2 separate regions of the Homo sapiens genome follow, and region 2 is linked to region 1. Evidence: fine-mapped expression QTL. A gene starts in region 1. The other region holds a variant in brackets. All regions are shown on one strand. Distances are from middle to middle. Region 1 holds the start of RCAN3 (RCAN family member 3). Region 2 holds the start of MYOM3 (myomesin 3).

Region 1 (10,511 bases):
GGCGCAATCTCGGCTCACTGGCAACCTCTGCCTCCAGGGTTCAAGCGATTCTCCTGCCTCAGCCTCCCGAGTAGCTGGGACTACAGGCACATGCCATCACACACCTAGCTAACTTTTTGTATTTTTAGCAGAGATGGGGTTTCATCATGTTGGTCAGGCTGGTCTCAAACTCCTGACGTCAGGTGATCCCCCCGTCTTGGCCTCCCAAATTGCAGGCGTGAGCCGCCACCACGCCTAGCCGTATTTTTCACTTTCTATTGAATATATCTATCTGGGTGGCCCACAGGTACAACAACTGTTTTTAACTTACTCATTTATCGTGCCAGAAATCTCCAATCTGGAAAGGGGCCCTGCGGAAGCGGGGCAGGGAGTGACAGTGTATCTCACTGTGGCTTTCATTAATCTTTTCTTCAAGACAAAGTTGTCAGGTGGACTTAGCTCTTACAGTGCTTGGTTCATTTTTCTGTTATACACTTACATTGTGATTATTTGTTTACAAATCACTCCTAGCTACAAGACTGTATCTGTGAAACCCCAGGCCCTGGCATAGTTTCCCGCTCACAGTGTATGCTTAATAAGGGAGGCTGAATAACAGCAGGTAGTATTTTAGTTACCCCACTGATATGTCAGCACAGACAAAGGTAAATTGAATTCTGCATGGGATTAGAGATAGCTTCCCAAGGAGGCAATGGTGAGACTTCAAGGATGAACAGAATTTCAGGAGGAAAAGAATGGGGAGCATTCCACACAAAGCCAGCAGGACATGAACAAAGGCAGGAAGACAGTAGGACCAGCATGCACAAAGGTCACGTGATCTGGCATGGCTAGGGTGCAAGGTGTTTGGTGGGGGTGGCATGAGACAGTCGGAAAGGCAGGTATGGGCCAGGTTGCCAAGCAAGTAGGGTTACAGAGTTTTGACACAAAAACCATGTCAATATCAGCATGCCATTGTGGGTTTTTAGGCAGGGAAATGATAAAACCAAGTGCAATTTAACTTTTAGTATCTCTAAAGGTGGGCTGTCTTTGTATCTTATCTCTTAGAGGCACTAATGTTTCTATCCTATTCCCAACCCATTAAAAAGAGGTAGAGAAAATACTGTGCCCGGGTTTTTGGAGGCTGGTAAGTTGGGGAGCTCTGGCTGACTAGATTTTGAAATTTGAGAAAGTCAACCTATTCTTGATAAGATTTGTTTGTTTCAAGTTCCCTCGTCTAACCCGTAAAAAGATTTTAAAAAACAGAACACAGGAAATAATCCTTCACCTGACTTAAAAAAAAAAAAATTCTTAGAATATCACACCTTCATTTCCTGTTTTCTACCTTCAATTTTGAGTACCTTTTTTTTTTTTTTGATATAACTTCAAACAGAAGTTATAAGAATAGCACAAGGAACTCGGGTATGCTGTATCCTTTACCCAGAGTCACCAATTCCTTCTGTTTTGACCATCTGCTTTATCTTTCTCTATTTTTATAGACATGCATTTTCCTGAGCCATTGAAAGATGGAGCATACCCCTTTTACTTCCAAATACTTCAGTGTATAAGAACAAGATCATTTTCTTATATAACCCATAGGATAATTATCAAAAACAGGAAATTTAACATTGATATAATACTATTATCTAATACATAATTTGTCAAATGCATAATCTGGATTCAAATTTTATCAGTTATCCTAATAATGTCTTAGCTATTTTCCTTCAATTTTTCTTTAGATTATTGTCAAATTATTTGTCGTTTGTCCCAAGATATCTATATTTCTTTCTTTTTCCTTTTTTAGAGACAGGGTCTCTGTCATGCGGGCTAGAGTGCAGTGGTATAATTATAGCTCCACTCCAACTATCACAAGACTAAACTGTTCCTCAGTTTACCAATCCAGGGAACTCTTGACTGGCCCAGCAGAAAGGGCTGAACCGATATCCTCCAGCTCCTGTAAGCAAAAGTCTGTGCTAATCCAGGTTTCCCGTCATCTCCAGCACAACTCTAACTACGGCTGGCTTCTGGCAAATTGTTTCTTCATGGAAATATCAAATGAGTGGAAAAACTCCAAGTAGCATGACCATCTGCTCTGCCACAACAGGCCTGTGACAAAAGTCATCTATCAAGGCAAAATGTCAAGCACATGGCATGGATCTTGCATTTTCTGTTCTGATCAGGAAAACGCAAATTCTTTCTCCTCCAGGATTAAAATAATAATAATTTTTCAAATTAATAGGCTTCCCAACTTGGTGAACATTTCAGTATCTTAGCTAGATGTACTTTTCACTTTTTTTGTATGTTAAAAATGCTACCAAACAATACTGGAAGCAAACAAGTGCTCCATTATCAGCTCTACAAGTGTCCTGCTGTATAACCTTGGGAAAAATCCCTTGGTTTTTCTGTATTTATAAAATGAACAAGATAAAATACATAAAGTGTATAAAATATATAAAATAAACATAGGTGCTTTGGGCTACTAAGTTCCTTTTTTAAATTTCTAAATTAAAAATTTCAACTAAGTTAAACAAAACAAAACACTTGGACTGGTGTGGTGGCTCATGCCTGTAATCCCAGCACTTTGGGAGGCGGAGGCAGGCGGGCTGCCAGAGCTCCAGAGTTCGAGACCAGCCCGGGCAACATGGAAAAACCCCGTCTCTACAAAAAAACACATGGTGCACGCCTGTAGTCCCAGCTACTCAGAAGGCTGTGGTGGGAGGAATACTTGAGCCTGGGAGGCCAAGGCTGCAGTGAGCTGTGTTTGCACCACTGCACTCCAGCCTGGGCAACAGAAGGAGATCTCAAAAAAAAGAAAAAAAAAAAAAAAAAAAAAGAAAAAAGAGAAAAAAAAAAACAAAGCAACAACAAAAAGCCACTTAGGATCGTCAATGCGAAGTTCTGAACGGCTATCACGAAGCCCTACCTTCTATTCTCTACTCATTTACCACTTACAGGTAGAACTGTACTATTTTTTAGTAGCTGTGTGTAAGAAAAATTTCGTGCGACAGTAAAGTAAAACGGGTGAAAATTTGATTTTTGTATTTTGTATGTTTCAATGACCCATGTCTTGTTTTCACAGATAACCTAGAATTGGTCCTGTTATAATTGAAGTTCCACTCCACCAGGAATTTGTCAGCAAGAGACAGATAGAAATAAACAACAAAAACCAGCCTACAAAACATATGAAAACAACAGGTTTTAAAGAATAACTGAAGTTGAGATATATAAGACTGATGCTATTTGTTGTGCTGTGTATAATTTCTTTTCCCTGGATAGAACCTCTACATTCTAGGGGAAAAGTGGAGATTGCTGTCCGACCTCCACCTTCTGTGTTTTTTTTCTAAGTAACAAACGGTGTTGAACTTTAGAGCTTCCATTATTTCACAGGCTTCAGGCTAATGGATTTCCGCGTCACACTATTTTTCATGCTTTAAGTCCTTCAACCAACAACTCTAACACCATATAAAATCTGCTCTTGTCTGTTACCTAATGTTCACATGTTTGAAACCTTTACAAACGTTATATTTCAACAGCAGGAAAAATCTTGTTTCCTAGAAAAGCACTGAAATCTGTTTTCAGGCTAAGAGAGAAAAGGTTTGGCTGGGTGCGGTGGCTCATGCCTGTAATCTCAGCACTTTGGGAGGCAGAGGTGGGCGGATGGCTTGAGCCCAGGAGTTCAAGAACAGCCTGGGCAACATAGTGACACCCAATCTCTACAAAAAATTAGCCGGCATCTGTAGTCCCAGCTACTCAGGACGCTGAGAGGTGGGAGGATCGCTTGATCCTGGGAAGTTGAGGCTGCAGTGAGCTGTGTTTGCACCACTGCACTTCAGCTGGATGACAGAGCGAGGCCTTGTCTCAAAAAGAAGAAAAGAGAAGAGAAGAGAAAAGAAAAGGCAAGGCTTGCCAATGCAGTAAAATGTAAAGCTGATGACCTGGCTAAAGAAGAGACTCAGTTTTCAAGCTTTTCACAGTCTTCCTGGATGGAAAGCCCATTTCTAGATCAATTTAAATCCCCACCAAAAAGAACACATTTGTGTGATGCATATCTGGCTCCTGAATTATGTGTTTACAGAGTTTAAGATATTGAACCAAAGCCAATGAAATAGTCTTAAAACAAATTACTTTACATCGTATGTAATCACAGCTACAGATAAATCAATTGCTTCTTTTGCCAAATAGTACATCAGAGACTTCTATGAAAAGTTCAAATAAATGTGGTGTACTTGGTGGCTTCCAACAAGTGGAAGCGAATATTTTTGGCTTTCAGCACTACAGGAAAACATCACTTTAAATAATCCTTGTTTGTATCTGAAACACGGATCTGGATTGCTTCCTACACTAGAATCCTAATCTCTAAAGGAGATGATCAGATTTTGCACGGAAGCTAGAAGAATCAACCTGGAACAGATCACTCCTGCCCTACCTGTCCAGGCGGCGGACAGAAGCAGACAGACAAGTTTCAAGAAGTTAGGGAGTCACTAATGCGATGGTGATCCACGCACCGTGGGGGAAGCGGGGCAAGGGAGAAAGACAGGGGGCTTCCACCTTCCAGGCGCCCCTACACCGCTCCTGCCTTCACAGGCAGGCTGGGCCTGTCGGCTTTTCAAAAGGTCAAACACACTTGGTGGGAGAAAATCGTTGGTGGAGAAGACAAAACATTTTTGTTTTGTTTTCCGGGACACCACCCTCGAGGCTGCCAGACTAGACCCCGCGCGCGAGAAGGGTGCGGCGGGAGGCGAGGTCGCGGGAGGCGAGGTCGCGCGCGGTAGCATCTCCCGGTCCCGCGGCTCGGAGTGCCCACCCCTCCCGGACTTCTCGGGGCGGCTTTTTTTTTTTTTTTTTTTTTTTTAACTTTTCATGCACCACCCCCCCCACCCGCCCCGCCCCGCCCCGCCCCGCGCTGGGTGCAAACCTGCTGGAGAGGCCGGGCGCCGTGGGGCCTCACCTGCACGCCCCGCCGCCGCAGGACGGGAGCCGGGAGGGCAGCGGACGGGCCCGGGCTGCCCGACGGGGCTGCGGGGAGCCGGACGGCGCGAGCTGCGGGGCCTCTGGGAGCCTGGTGGGCGGCGGGCGGGGCCGAAGGCAGAGCCGGGAGCCGCCTGCAGCAGCAGCCTCGCCGCCACGCCCTCGACGCCGGCGAGAGCGGCCCCCTGGGCTGGGACTAGGGCGGTGTCCCGGCTGAGCTAGGCTGCCGGCGCCGCGCGCCCGCCTCGTCCCCTCCTGTTCTGGCAGGGCGCGCGCACGGCGGCGCAGGCGCCAGAGCCCAGGACAAGGCGGGGACCCGGGCGGGGACCGGGGCGGGGGCGCGCGGGGGCCGGGGTGGGGGTGTCTCGCCGCGCGCGCCCTCCTCCCGCTCCTCCGGGTTCCTGGTCCCCAGCCTGTGGGGGGCTTGGGCTGTAGCGCTGGGGCGGGGGCTTTAGATCACCCCGAAAACAGGACCTCTGGCGACCTTCTCGTTTTCCACCGGGAGCGGAGAGAGCCGATCTCCTTTTCCTGCTAGCCCCGTAGGACAGTCCCCGGAGCAGCTCATAGGAATATGACGAACGTTTACTCAGGGCTGGTTACTATGTACACTGCGCCCCGCGCGCGGCGAGTTTACCTCGGTTCACCTCCCGGCAACCGGCGGCCCGGATATTATCAGATGCTGTGGGCTTCCCGGCGCCTCATTGCCCGAGGAGAGGCGGCCGCAGGTAGCTGAGCTGGAGCTAGCACAAGGTGTGGGACGGCACAGGCTGGGTCCCGCCCTGGCGGGTACAACCCTCTTCCCCTTACCCACTCCTTCCCCTCCCCTCCCATCCCCTCCCCTCCTCTCCTCCCCACTCGTGCTCTTCTCCCTCCTCCCGCTCTCCCTCCTCCTCTTACTCCTCTTCACCCTATGCCCTATCTACCGTTGTCATACAATCCACATGTTTAATGCTTTCTTTTTCGTGTAAAAACCCTTCCACGCAGTCTTGCTTGTCTCCGACGCCTTAGGAGACCATGGGACATGATTACAACTATTACGCAAAGGGAAGAGCCGGGGTCTAAGCTGTTGAGCGAGTTTCAGTGATAGGACCGAGGCTTACATTGGCAGGTATTATTACCACCAATAACAACTATGATGACAAAGCTCCTGAGCCCAACTTGGAAGGCAGCTGGTGTCTCTTCCCTTAGCCGGCAGAGAAGGAAGCAGGGTCACACAGCAGGGAAAATAACTGGGCTCATCTCCCACCTACAAGGACGCGCAGTCACGCAGTGGTGCGCACCCGTAGTCCCAGCTAACTCAGGAGGCAGAGGTGGGAGGATCGGTTGAGGCCAGGAGTCTGAGACCAGCCTGGACAGCATAGCAAGACTCCGTCTCAAAAAAAAAAAAAAAAAGGAATGTGCAGTTAGAAGAAAATCAGCTCTCATTACCCACTCAAGACCTTTCAGAGGCAAAGTGAGGCACAGTGAAGCTTAACATCAAAGGCACTCAGCGCCTGCATCATGGGGCAGGAAGATGGACTAAAATGTGTACAGCACATCTAATCCCTGTTAGATGTAAACTAAGAAATCAGGGTTGGATTATGACCCCAAGGGCTCCCCAGCAGTTGAGCCCAGCATAGTCACCGAGGTATGTCCAGCAGATCGCCCCTCCTACTTCCTGCTTGCTGCTTCTGTGGTTCCTGCTGCCTCCAACCGTGCTGCTCCTGCTCCCCATCTTGTCTTAAACTAAGTTCTTCACTTTCATTCGTTTAACTAATATTGATGGCAAGCTGCTTCTTTTGTCAAGGTCACTCTAAGGACTATAGTAATTATTTTTTCTCTAAATTCCTCTAACACAGCAACTTTTGCAAAAATTGAGGGTTGTTTTTTTTTTTTTTTTTGGTGTTTTTTTGTTTGTTTTGAGATGGGTCTGCTCTGTTGCCTAGGTTGGAGTGCAGTGGCACAATCATAGCCTCAACCATCCAGGCTCAAGTGATCCTCCCATCTCAGCCTCCTGAGTAGTTGGGACTACAGGCACATGCCACCATGCCTGGCTAATTTTTCTACTTTTTGTAGAGACAAGGTTTCACAATGTTGCCCAGGCTGGTCTCAAACTCCTGAACTCAAGCAATCCTCCTGCCTTGGCTTCCCAGAGTGCTGGGATTATAGGCGTGAGCCATTGCACCTGGCCAAAAAATTGAGTTTTCACATCAAATGAGATTGGAAACAGCTGCATTCCATAGCCCTGCCTGGAGATGTCTGATGCACGTTCACACAAAAAAAATGGCCCTGAGAGATCCTAAGTCAAACAACCAGATTAGCTTAATTTAGTTTCCCTGAGGTATTAGGCCCTGTGTGGGTGTTGGGCTTGCAAGGGTAAGGTCCATAGAGATCTGCCACCTGAGGAGCTCACAGATGGGGGAGACAGTGATTGTGATACAGTTGTATTTGTGCACTGAGACATTTGCAAAGTGCTGACAAAGCAGAGGAAGAAGTGAGCAATCCTACATGATGGTTCAGGGAACGGGGTTCGCATTTTCCAGTATTATTCAAGATTCTCTTTTTTTCATGGAATACATCAATCAGACTGGGTTAAGCAGCAAATGGAATGCATTGACTCACATAATAGAAAAGTTTGGGGCTTCAGGCATGGCCGGATTCAGGGGCTTAAACTACGACATTAGGATTAAGTTTTTTCTCTCCATTTTTTTTTTTTTTTTTTGAGACGGAGTCTCGCTCTGTCGCCCAGGCTGGAGTGCAGTGGCGCGATCTCGGCTCACTGCAAGCTCCACCTCCCAGGTTCATGCTATTCTCCTGCTTCAGGCTCCCGAGTAGCTGGGACTACAGGCGCCCGCCACCACGCCCGGCTAATTTTTTGTATTTTTAGTAGAGATGGGGTTTCATCGTGTTAGCCAGGATGGTCTCGATCTCCTGACCTCGTGATCTGCCCACCTCGGCCTCCCAAAGTGCTGGGATTACAGGCGTGAGCCACCGCACCCGGCCTCCATTTCTTGACTCTATTTCCTGTTGACTTTGCGTTCTTAGGCTTCCTTTTCCCCATGAGATGGCAGAATGGCTGCTTACAATTTCAGATCACACCCTTTCCAGCAGAAAGGGAGTTTCTTTTCCCTGATGCTGTCAACAAAAGTCCCAGGACTACATCCCATTGGTCTAACTTGTGTTACCCGTGCATCACTAAACCACTCTCCTGAGAAGGGGCATGGAACATTCTGACAGCTCCTCACAAATCGCGTGGACTGAGATTTGGGGAGAGGTGGCTTCCTGTGCTAGATCATTTCTGTTGGCCCTTCCAGACCTACTCTCCACCCTTTTCCTTCCTGATTTGAACCTCAAGAGGCCAACCTGCATGGACTGCTTCCACAGATCCCTTGTCCTCTGACTTACAGTTGAATTCACCAAATAGAAGACATTGGAAATGAGACCCGAGGGTTGGAGGAGGAGGAAGGTAAGGGTATTATTCCTCTGGCCCCTGCCCTTCTGGGTCGCTGCAGGTTGGCTACATGTATTTATTGAAGCTTCTGTCAACTGGCCTTCTTCACACAGCTACTCTCTCCTAGTTCTAGTAAATTCTCCCTTCTCCACCTCCAGAATTATCCACCCTGGAGGTGATAATGGCTCCCCTCTGTTGCCTGCCACAGTGTATCACACCATCAGCCCTGCTTTTTCCCTCAACCCTGCCCACACATCTGTATGTAACCTTTACTAAACCCCCTTTAGATTAATCATCTGCTGGGATGCTGATGGTTACATTCAACAAAGGAGATTCAAGTCTCTATTACCAAAAGAAAGGGGAATGAATCAAGGGCAGGCAACAGCACTATGGTACTGATATTGGTTTGGAAGAAGTATCACCATAGTGCAGACCACAGATGACTGTGGCTTGGACAGGGTCGTGATGGGGGAAGCAATGAGAAATGGTAGGATTCTGGCTATATCTCAGAGGCAATGTTAACACAGTTTACTGAGGAATTGTATGTAAATCATGAGCAGTAGAGAGGAGCTGAGGGTGGAAGTAGTTGGAAAACATGCATCTGGAGCCTAGGAGTGAGCTCAATGAGTAGTGATTTGGGAGGGAGGCGCGTTAGTTAGTTGAAACCACGGGCTCAGATGAAATGACCCGGGGAGCCCACGTAGAATAGAACACAGAAAGGGCAAAAGGCAGAATCTAGAAGAACAAACACCAGCCTTTCCATGGTGAACAGAGGAAGAGTTGCCATCTTGTATCTATCGTCTAGATCGTGGGCAACTCGATAACTTGAGCGCAAGAACAGAATCTTCCACATCCTTCCTTTTTACCATCGTGTCTAGCGAGGTGATGACCACACGGTGGGTAATCAATGCTTGTTATGAATGAACTTGACAGTTCCACATTTCTAACACTCCCTCCCTCTCCTTCTCATGTGAGGTTTGAGTTACAGGCCGAGAAAAAGAGAAATTGATCCCTGTGGCTCAATCCGTTGAAACCTATGCCCAGGGTGCTAAGCATTTCGCTGCCCTGGAAAACTTCAGTAGAACCTCTCAGACAATGCCACAGATCCCGAGTAGCACACCTCTTGCCTTTTAGGAGAATTTCCAGACCAGCGATTTCATTTCAGATTTTCTTATTCCAGATTTTCTTATTCTTATTTGAGTAGATTTAACAGTAAATATCCTAACAAATCCTTATTAGGTTTGTTTTGGGTTTGTGCTATGAAAATGATACAAGTGGCAAAAGATCTCCATCTCACATGCATACATTAGTAGTGGAATGTAAAAGGATGCAACTGATTTTTGGAAACTGCCAGTTTATCAAGCTAAACGTACACCTACCCTATGACCCAGAAATTCCACTCCTAGATGCAGACTCAAGAGAAATGTAGGGAAATGTCTACCAAAAAAGAGGCTGGTACAAGAATGCTCTTAACATCTTGGCCGGGTGAGGTGGCTCACGCCTCTAATCCCAGCAATTTGGAGGCCAAGGTGGGTGGATCAGTTGGGGTTAGGGTTTGAGACCAGCCTGGGCAACATAATGAAACCCTGTCTCTACTAAAAATACAAAAATTAGCCAGGTGTGGTGACGGGTGCCTGTAATCCCAGTGACTTGGGAGGCTGAGGTGGGAGAATGGCTTGAACCCGAGAGACAGAGGTTGCAGTGAGCCGAGATTGTGTCACTGCATTCAAGCCTGAGCAAAAGAGACTCCCATCTCAAAAAAACAAAAACAAATCAACAACACAAAATATTTAATCATACTATTCTCCAACTGTAAATATCCCAAATGTCCACAAGAGGAATGGATAAGAAAACCATGGTATATTCAAACAATATAATACTACACAGCAATAAAAAAAAATCATGAAATGTTGATACACATAACAACGGATAAATCTCAAAAGCAATTGTTGAGCAAAAGAAGTCAAAACGCATAGATGTATGATTTCATTTATATGAAAGTCAAGAAGAGGCAAAACTAATGTAATAAGCATGAGAATAGTGGTTGCTTCTGAGGGTAGGGATTAATTGGAAAGGGGCACAGAACATTCAGGGGTTATGGAAATGTTCTTCCCATGCCAGTATGTTTGCCAGACATGGT
Region 2 (10,511 bases), 390 kb after region 1:
ACTTCAAACAAATGAAATCAGTGCCCAGAACCTCGGTTTCCTCATCTGTAATGTGGGGATCATAACACCTACCTCATGGAGTTGTGGTGAAGATGAAATGAAGTCATGTCTTTAAAGTGCTTAATAGTGCCTGGTACATGGGCAGTGCCCAATAAACGGTAGCTATTTCCTGTTGTGATTTTTTTTTTAAACTACGTTACACAAGGAGTGACCCCCTCCCCCAATTCGGATTGGCTTCAGACACACCTGGCATTTTCTCATGGGCTTAAATGACCTGGATTTCCTCAGGACAGGCAAAGCCAGAGGGGTCTGGGGTGGGAAAGAGGAGGGACTGCAGGGCCTTCTAGAGACAAGAGTTCAGAGACAAATGATGTGGAACCTTCTCCCTGAGATCGTAGGCAGAAGCCATTGTGGGTGGCAGTGGTAATCTCAGACGGCCTCTGTCCATCCAGCCTCCCTGATCCCCCACAGAGGCAGTGTTGCACACTCTGTGCTCTCAGACTGCTGCCATACCCTCCGTATCACTGCATCTCAGACGACCCCTACCATGAGGAAGCCAAAGTCCAGAGGGAGAGGGGACCTACCCGAGATCCCACTATTGAGGCTGTGACAGAGTTGGAGTGCAAACCTAGGGCTTTTTGTCCTCATCGAGAGAGGAAGCTTTCCACACCTGCTTGGATTCTTGGAGGATGAGACTAGTGGAGGCTAAGGAGGGGAGGCCTCCTAATGGGGTCCCCAAGAGAAAAGTGCTCCTGGTCACCTTGCTCCAAAGTCTTTTTGTTTGTTTGTTTTGTTTTTCCTTTTGGAGAAAGGGTCTCACCCTGTGGCCTAGGCTGGAGTGCAGTGGCATGAACACAGTTTACTGCAGCCTTGACCTCCTGGACTCAAGTGATCCTCCTACTTCAGCCTCCCGAGTAGCTGGGACTACAGGTGCATGCCACCATGCCCAGATAATTTTTGGTATTTTTGGTAGAGATGGGGTTTCGCCATGTTGCCCAGGCTGGTCTTGAACTCATGGGCTCAAGTGATTGTCTTGCCTCAGCCTCCCAAGTAGTTGGAATTACAGGCGTGAGCCACCACACCTGCCCTCCAAAGCCTTTTCTGAACATTTCTGAGAAAGAGGATGGAACACCAGTCACCTCAGAGGGACCCTTCCCAGAGTGGACAGTGTCCTTCTCTTCCCAGGTACATCTCCTCTTCTCTTCCCCACCCCTCCCCTTTCCTGGGACACAGTGACAGGTGGTGGTGTTCTTATCTGATGGTAATTAATGTTTAACATCTCCTCGGTGTCACTGGTTTAGACCCAACACCTCCGTGCAGAGGGATGGGTCTACCTGGACAGCCCCCCCCAGCCCATTCACCCCTCCACGGCAGCCAAGTCAGCCGGATGACGGCTCCCCTCTCCCCACCCACTGCAAACAAGTCTACTTCCTGTTGCTTGGGTCACACTTGGCCAAAGGTTAACTGTCTTCACCTTGTTTATTGGTGAAAAACAACCTAACAGGTGGACTATTCTCACCAAGTGAGACCCAGGAGCTACAGAAGTTTTTTATTAAGACCAGGCGCAGTGGCTCACGCCTGTAATCCCAGCACTTTTGGAGGCCAAGGTGGGTGGATCACCTGAGGTTGGGAGTTCCAGACCAGTCTGGCCAACATGAGACCCCCTCTCTACTAAAAGTACAAAATTAGCTGGGCATGGTGGCAGGCGCCTGTAATCCCAGCTGCTTGGGAGGCTGAGGCAGGAGGATCACTTGAACCCGGGTGGCGGGGTTTGCAGTGAGCCAAAATCCAGCCATTGCACTCCAGCCTGGGCAACAGAGCGAGACTCCATCTCAAAAAAGAAGTTTTATTAAAAGCCATAAATATCTCTTCCAACTCACAGTAACACGAAGCTCTTTGCCCTCCTCCGGGTGACAAACATTTCAGAAATGATTCTGGGAGGGTGGAGTCTGAGTGTCTGAAGAGAGGGATGGATGGCTTCGAGTCTGTGACTCACCCCTCCTCAGGTTGGACCTGTCTGCACTGAGGGGCGGGGACCAGACTGCATGACCCCTGAGGTCCCATGCCTCCCAGGCAGCCCAGGCCTGCAGATAGAGCTGGAACCAGCCAGAAGGCAGAGCGTCCGCATACCCTGGAGCTGGCTGGGGACCTCATCGTTCCTGAGAGTCCTGGGTCCGATCCCATTTCCAGGAATCTCCACAGCCCCACCCTGCCCAGCAAGAGAGGTGATTCTCCAAGTTTTCACTTGCCTACAAGGTATGGCACAGTCAAGCCCAGGAATAAATGACTAGTAATATAATAGTAGCAGTAGTCAAAGTCATATGAAAGAGAAGAAGTCAACCGTGTTGCTTGGCCGTTATGTACTTGATCATTCATCCTCCTGGTACCCTTCTCTCCATGATAGGTTGTATTATTGATATTTCGCAAAGGAGGAAAATGTGTCTCAGAGAGATTACTTGCCCTAGTTCATGAAAATACTCTGGGAAGCTTACTAAAAATACAGCTTCCCCAAGCCCACCCCAGACCTGCTAAACTCACAGTTTCTAGGAATCTGGTTGTTTGTTTTTGAGACAGAGCCTCACTTTGTTACCCAGGCTGGATTGCAGTAGCATGATCACAGCTCACTGCAGCCTCCACCTCCCTGGCTCAGGTGATCCTCTCACCTCAGCCTCCCAAGTAGCTGGGACTACAAACACCCACCGCCATGCCTGCTAACTTTTGTATTTTTTGTATTTTTGTCAACAGGTTTCACCCTGTTGACCAGGCTAGCCTCAAACTCCTGGACCCAAGTGATCCTCCACCTTGGCCTCCCAAAGTGCTGGGGGGTATCTGCATTTTTCATAAACTTCTTTGGTGATTCCTCTGAAGCAAGTTGAGGGAACAGTGCCGTTACACCATCACTTTCTCTCTCCATAGCCTCAAATCAGCGCCCTAGAGGGACCCCCATTACACCCGCTGTTGCAACAGAGTTGAGGGTGGGGGTACTGCATGGCTGTGATGCCTGCAAACCTCTGACCTCCCAAGCTCCCGACTCTAGGAACATACAGGGCTTGCCTGAGTTTCCACCCAGAGAATTGGACCAGCAGGACTGGAGCTCCTCCAGATTTCCAGACAGCCAGAGCCTCTGTCCCTCCCAAGTCTGAGTGTCAACCTGGACAGGGAGACTATGGCCTGATGTCACCAATGCTTGTCCCCTGTCGCTGTCCCCACCTGCATTCCAGACCATGGGACAGAAACAATAAGCTGAGGCAGGTATTGCCAGAGAGATGGAGGCAGCCCCCACCTCCCCTGCTGGTGCTGACGCTGATGAGACAACTCTGAGACCCCAGAGCTGCTGCTCAGCTCCTTTGGCTACTTGAGCCCATTTTTCCTTCCCACTCTAAGGAGGAAGGGGGAGTAAGGAAGATATGCTTTGGCCAGTCCGTATGAGAAGAACAGCAGTTGCAATTAACTGGACTCCGAGAGCGACAGGGAGGGACGGGAGACTGAAGCAGGTACAGTGTCGCCACACAGGGGGAGAAAGCCACAGGCTTGGTTGCTGTCGGAGAAACAGCATGGAGGTTCAGAGCAGTCAGTTTGTTCTTAATGGTCATAAGTCCAGGGAAGGGAATAAAAGAGAAAAGAAGGCAAGGGGAGAAAGAAGAAAGATAAGCCAGGTACTATAGTAGGTATTTTACACATTTAACCTTATCTGAGTCTCCCAGCCATTCTGCAAGATAGGCAATTGCTATAGTCTGAATGTTGGAGTCCCCCCAAAATTCATATGTTGAAACTTCATGTAATAGTAGCAAGAGGTGAGCCCTTTGGAAGGCCATGAAGGCTATGCCCTCAATAATGGGATCAAGAGGCCAGCATGGTGGTGATTCAAGCCAGTAATCCCAGCACTTTGGGAGGCCAAGGTGGGAAGATCCCTTGAGGCCAGGAGTTTGAGACCAGCCCGGGCATCACAGTGAGACCCTGTCTCTACAAAAAACGCAAAAATTAGCCTGGTGTGGTGGTGCGTGCCTATAGTCCCAGCTACTCAGGAGGCTGAGGTAGGAGGATCACTTAAGCCCAAGAGGTTGAGGCTGCAGTGAGCCATGACTGCACCACTGCACTCCAGTCTGGGCAACAGAGCAAGATCCTGTCTCGGGGAAAAAAATAAAAATGGAATGGGATTAATGCCCTTATAAAAGAGGTTGAAGAGAGTGCCCTAGCCCCTTCCACCACATGAGGACTCCACAAGAGGCACCATCTATGATGCAGAGAGCAGGTCCTCACCAGACACTGAATCTGCTAGCACGTTGATCTTGAACTTCTTGGTCTCCAGAA[C/T]CGTAAGAAATAAACTTTTGTTATTTATAAATGACCCTGTCTAATGTATTTTGTTGTAGCAGCTCAAACGAACTAAGACAGTAACCATTCACTGATTCATTTTTCTTTTTTTTTTTTTTTTTTGAGACGGAGTCTCTCTCTGGTCTCCCAGACTGGAGTGCAGTGGCGCCATCTCAGCTCACTGCAAGCTCTGCCTCCCGGGTTCACCCCATTCTCCTAACTCAGCCTCCTGAGTAGCTGGGACTACAGGAGCCCACCACCACGACCTGCTAATTTTTTGTATTTTTAGTAGAGACAGGGTTTCACCTTGTTAGCCAGGATGGTCTCGATTTCCTGACCTCATGATCCACCTGCCTCGGCCTCCCAAAGTGCTCGGATTACAGGCGTGAGCCACTGCGCCCAGCCCACTGATTCATTTGTAAATAAATGTGAATTGAGGGCCAGGTGTATGCCAAGCACTGTTCTCGGGGGTAGGGATATGGTCAGGCAGGCAAGTTCTCTGCTATCTTGGAATGTGTCCTCCACCTACAGAGAAAGAAACTGAGGCCCAGAAAGGAGGCCAAGGTCCCCCTGTTAGTGACTGAGGCACCAGAGGTTGGGATTTAAACCAAGGCTTGTATAACATCAAGTCATCTAATCTCTCTGCTCAGCCGCATGACCTTAGGCTTGGCCATGTTTACAGAGGTTCCAGTGATGACTGAGTGCTTCACTGGGGTGAGGTCAACAAAGGGATACATGGGAATCCCACCCCCAGAAGCATGGGGTAAGAGAAAGCCATCAGCATTCCTAGAGCTTTCATTTAGCAAACGTCTGTCCGGGGCCAGACGCCGTGCTGGAGGTTTCACGGTTCTTGGTTGAACATTTTCTTTTCTTTTCTTTTCTATTCTTTTTTTTTTTCTTTTCTTTTTGAGACAAAGTTTCACTCCTGTCACCCAGGCTGGAGTGCAATGGCGCCATCTCAGCTCACTGCAACGTCCACCTCCTGGGTTCAAGCAATTCTCCTGCCTCAGCCTCCCAAGCAGCTGGGATTACAGGCGCGCCCCCACCACACCCAGCTAATTTTTGTATTTTTAGTAGAGACGGGGTTTCACCATGTTGGCCAGGCTGGTCACGAACTCCTGACCTCAGGTGATCCACCCGCCTCGGCCTCCCAAAGTGATGGGATTACAGGTGTGAGCCACCATGCCCAGCCTGATTGAACATTTTCAATGAGACAGCTAAGTGGAAATTGTTGTCTTCAACTGTACAGATAATCAAACCACACTGGCTGAGTGCCTTCCCCAAGGTCATCCAGCTAATAAGTGGTGGGACTGAATTGAAAGCCTAAGCCGGTTTGACTCCAGGATGCACCCTGTCTCTCCAGTGCACCTTCATTCATCTCCCCAGATTGCCTTGGGAGGACGGGGCTAGAGGACCTGTTTAAATGACTGTCTCCTGCTCAGTTGGAAGCTCAAAGCCCTCTTTGCTGTTCGTACGGATTCACTCACACTCATCCCTCACAGCAAATGTATGAAGATGAGTCTTGGAAAGCCCTTGTTCGATTGGGTCAATAGAAGATGGGAGAGAAATGTTCTCTCCCAAAAGATGCTGTAAGAGAGAGCCACAGAAGAGCTTAGAAAGGGGTTTTCAAATAGGGCAGGGGATTCAGATTTTGCCTGCAAAGTTCACTTGTGCTCTCTCTCTCCTTCTCTCGAGTGAGGAGTCCCTGAGGCACCAGCAAGAGTGACAGGTGTAGTGTGGGTGGCCACCTGAGGTCGCAGGAAGGGGTGAGGGAGGGAAGCTGTGCTCTCTGGCTAGGGGCCGGTACAGCCTTCCCCTCACCGGCTCATCCTCTGAGACTCGACCCAGGTGCACCTTCCTGATCACCTCCTGTCGTAAGTGCCTGACTTCCCCTGTAGGTTAGGGTCTGGCATAGGGTAGGTGCCAATGAATGTGAGGGGGAAAGAATTGAGACTGAGGGAATGGCAGGAGAGGGCAAAGGGTGGGAAGAGGTGTGGTGCCGAACACCTATTAACCTCAGTAGGGAAGGCACCAGGTTTGAGAGGCCAAAGAAAAGATCCATAGCCAGCAAACGGAACATGGGGGTTTCAGGAGGCGGAGGTTGCAGTGAGCTGAGATCATGCCACTGCACTCCAGCCTGGACAACAAAGTGAGACTCTGACTCAAGAAGGAAAGAAAGAAGGAAAGAAGGAAAGAAAGAAAGAAAGAAAGAGAGAGAGAAGGAAGGAAGGAAGGAAGGAGGGGGGGAGGGAAAGAAGGAAAGAAGGAAGGAAGGAAGGAAAGAGAAAGAAGAAAGAAAGAAAGAAAGAAAGAAAGAAAGAAAGAAAGAAAGAAAGAAAGAAAGAAAGAAAGAAAGAAAGAAAGAAAAAGAAAGGGAGAGAAGGAAGGGAAGGAAGGAAAGGAAGGAACGTGGGGGTTTGTTAGGGGCTTGCCTACAGGAGAGAGAGTCCACTGGTGATGAACTGGACAGGAGAACCGCCTTACATACAGAAATGGTCCAGGGGCGGCGGGCTGGACAACATACCAGTGGCGGCCGACTGGGCAGGAAAACCTCAGCCCCTTGCAAACAGCATGCAGTTTATAGAGCATTTTCACTTTACACCATCCCCTAATGACCTCCACCTGGCAATCTTCATTTAACCCAAAACTCAGGGCCTCAATCCCCTGTATGGCCAGCGTTCCACCAGAAGGGACGGGACGGGGGCTCAGATATTCATCGTAGGTAAGAAACGGGTTGGCTACTCCCCAGATTCCTTAGCTCGGAACACATATTCAGGTCTTCCACACAGGGTCATTCTTGGAGCGTGCTTCAGTTATCCCTGTCAGGTGCGTTTACCCTATAAGAAGGCCCTTCAGGGGACACTCTGGCAGCCTGAGCAGTTTGCACAGTGAAGCAGTAGGTGGCTCCCCAGCTCCTCCTGCCTGCACCACACCACACACACATGACTGTGGTCAGGGCGGGGGCCGTGTAGTAACTACCGGAGTGGTGGAGGGACCAGGAGCCACACATTGCTGTTTTAGCCAGTGACAACTTCTGAGCACGAAACACTCACTTTTAGGTCATATTCCTTCCACCGTCTTCATGAAGTCCAGGTGCCCAGTCTCACTGTCTCCGTTTTTCAGAAGGCAGTCAGTTCAGGGAAGCTGAGCGCCTTCCCCAGGGCACCCAGTCAGCCGGGGCAGAATTCAGATCAGAACTCCCGACAGCTGAGAACGCCGCACGGGATCTGCCCTCCATACGACCATGCCTGAGCCGTTCCCTCCTTTCCATTTTAACAGGGGCTTGGGTTGGGCAGAAAGGACCCAGCTGAGAGGAGGAGCAGTGTGGGGGGACGCGGCGGACAGCTCCACCTGTCGCTGCTGCCCAGCAGGCTGGAGACACGGAATGGCCCCTCCCCTTGGCCCCCTGTCCCCGATGCCATAGTTCTCATCCATTGTCATTGTACTGTCTCAGTGCTGCTATATTTAAGACGGTGCAGTCTCCGGGATCGCATTCTTCTCCCGGTGCCCGCTGAGCCGAGGGCAAGAAGAGAACAAGGACCCTCTCGGCCTCAGGAATCTTCTCCCCAGAGACTCCTAAGTGGGCACACTGCTTCTGTGAGTCACCCCCAGAAATCAGGGTGGGGGAGGGATGCCTCCTAAGAGTCAGCCACTGGGGAGTGATATCTGTGGGTGCATGTGTGTGTGTGTGTGCACGTGTGTGTGTTTGTGTGTATGTGTGTTGTGTGTTGTGAAAGGAGCCTGGGAAATTTGTGCTGAGGCAGCACCCAAGTGAAAATGGGAGGGGATTCCAGAAACCCCTGCCCCATCCCACTGTTCTGTGTGGCCCTGGGTCTTCTGAGAGCTGAGCTGTCTGTGATGTGAAAGTTGCAAAAAAAAAAAAAAGAGTGGGGGCTGCCCTGGGAACTGGAGTCTTTCCTGTGATGGAGCAGCGATAAGCGGGAGCCAGGCTAAGCTGGCAAGTTCCACGAACTTAGAGCGGAGCTGGCTGAGCCCGGCTTGGCCAACCCCACAGGCAGGGAAAGAGAGCGAGCCCTCGGATCCCAAATCTTAGAGCTGGAAGGGATTTCATCCAGTGCCTGACAGGAAACCGAGGCCCAGACGGGAAAGGAGTTGCCTCAGCTCATGACTGGCAAGGGCAGGATTCGGCCTCGCGGAAGCTGGTGGAGCCACTGGCTAAGAACACGTCCCAGCCTGTGCCACCCGCCGCCCGCAGGATGTGTCTCTGCTCCCAGCCACCATCCGCCCCCATCGCAGCTCCTGGAGGGGTCTTGGCTCAACTGCTGTGCATTCCTCTTTCCCTCCTGAAGAAGGGGAGAGGCCTCCTCGGCAGATGGAGGCTTGGGAGGAAAGCAGAGGGGAATAGGGAAGGCCACGCAGTGGGACCTCTGGCCCAGATTTTTGCACCCCAAGAGAGGGAAGCGGGGGCAGTTTCCCCTCCACGCAGGCACACACAGTGTTCCGGGAAGAGGCACCCTGGTCCTTTGGGAAAGGGCAGTGAGGCCGCAAACTTGTCCCTGCTTAATACCACGCATCAGTCAGTGCTTTAAAAAGAATTGGTAGCTCATCCGCTAAAGCCAGGGGTCTGGTTGCTGGAGGCCCCGAGGTCAGGGACGAGCGCCAGGCCCCTGCCTGCTGTGCTAATCGGGAACAGAGCATCCAGGGGAAGGGAGCCAGTGGCTGGTGCCAGGGAATGTTAACTCTCAGCCACTGGAGCCAGGGCCATCGTGTCCCAGGAAAGCTGGGGCAGAGTGGGGGGTCCTTGCTCCACCTAGGGTGGTACCCAGCAGCTCTCCTCCTGGGCCATGAGGAAGAAAGAGCAGAATGAGCAGGGCTAGCCACTTCTTTGGGTGCAAAGAGAACTTCTTCCATCGGGAGGGAGTGATACGAAGCCAAAGAGGGTGACTGTCCCATTATGTCATTTGAGATGATTAGCAGGAGCCCAGGGAGCTTTAGGGGGCAGCCCTTGGTCCCAGCTAACCCTGCAGCCATCCATTCTCTTTTTCCTGATGCCCACAACTGCAGACACCCAAAAGGAGCAAACTTCTAGGAAGTAGAAGGGGTAAAAGCCCACTAAGACTGACCCTCCACAGCCCGAGCCCCAGACACCTCCACCACATGCCCCTTCCAGGCCAACGGCTCTCCAATAAAGCCAGTGGGCTCACCTTCCATGCCATGGACTTAGAGAAATGGTCACCTAGGTGCTGTGTTCACATCCAGGCAGAAGACAGCCTACACATGCACGCACACACACACATACACACACATGCACGCCCACACACACACACGCTGCCACCTCCAGCAGGACCCTCTAGAGAGGCAGGGGCCAGACAGAGCTGACCCCACAGAAGCTGACAGGAGCAGGCCAAGGCAGGCGGTCATCCCTCTTCTGTTTCCATCCCCACGCCTGGGCAGGAACCCTCCCATGCCAGAAGCCTGCAGACCAGGATTCCCACCTGGAGGAGGTGTGAAAGCCATTCCAGGGATTTTAGCTTTAGCATCAGGGGGGCCCTCAGAGACCCAGCAGTGACTGAAGCCCGGATATGAGAAAACTCAGTGCAAAAACCCACAGCCAGCGGGCACACGGGCCTCCCACACCCCTCGTTTGCCTCTCCATATCCATGGATCCGCTTCCTGAGCCTCCCCTGGGTCAATCTGATCCGGCCCCACTGGGCGCCATCACGGGCCTAGACTTGAGCCTTGGGAATGCAAAGGAGATGTGTACATTGCAATCCCCTTATAAGGAGAAAGGCCCTGTGGCCCACCGTGTCCCCAGCCTCTGCCACGGCCTGGCCTTGAATGGACATATGACATAGAGATCAGAAGGGCTAGGGGTTGGGCTAGGGATTGGCTGCCAGTCATGGCCCCACCATCATGCTGGGTGACCTTGAGCAAGTACTGCCCCTGTTCATCAGTAAAATGGGATAATAATGGTGCTGTCCTCATTTGGGTTATTGCAGGGACTGGGGATAATGCATTTGAAAACTAACATGGGCATGGAACATAGTAAGTTCTCACTATTGTTACTTTTAATTCACTTACAGTCTTGTTGAACAGTCAAGATGCACAGATACAAAATAATTACATAGAGAAAGCATTGTCTGAATCAATGCTAAATTGTGGAGTGCTAGAAAATAAGTACAAAAGAAATGAGAAGAGGGAAAATTCTAGGTGGCCTGTAGTCTTTCTGCAAGGCTTCT

Evidence for each region. PIP is the estimated chance that this variant, and not a neighbour inherited with it, causes the effect.
Region 2: its variant is fine-mapped to the expression of RCAN3 in tibial nerve (GTEx, PIP above 0.99).

What each region holds. Positions count from the first base shown.
Region 1 is chr1:24,497,528-24,508,038 of GRCh38, reverse strand. RCAN3 (RCAN family member 3) reads right to left here and starts at 5,203. Exons shown (of 5, transcript NM_013441.4): 1 at 4,889-5,203. It overlaps RCAN3AS (RCAN3 antisense RNA), which reads left to right and starts at 5,657. Exons shown (of 2, transcript NR_144360.1): 1 at 5,657-5,691. RefSeq lists silencers at 3,154-3,354, 4,861-5,360, 5,642-5,814 and an enhancer at 6,418-6,517.
Region 2 is chr1:24,109,428-24,119,938 of GRCh38, reverse strand. MYOM3 (myomesin 3) reads left to right here and starts at 7,804. Exons shown (of 37, transcript NM_152372.4): 1 at 7,804-7,908. IL22RA1 (interleukin 22 receptor subunit alpha 1) reads left to right here. Exons shown (of 7, transcript NM_021258.4): 7 at 1-168. RefSeq lists an enhancer at 7,094-7,602. The variant C/T (reference allele first, on the strand shown) is at 4,312.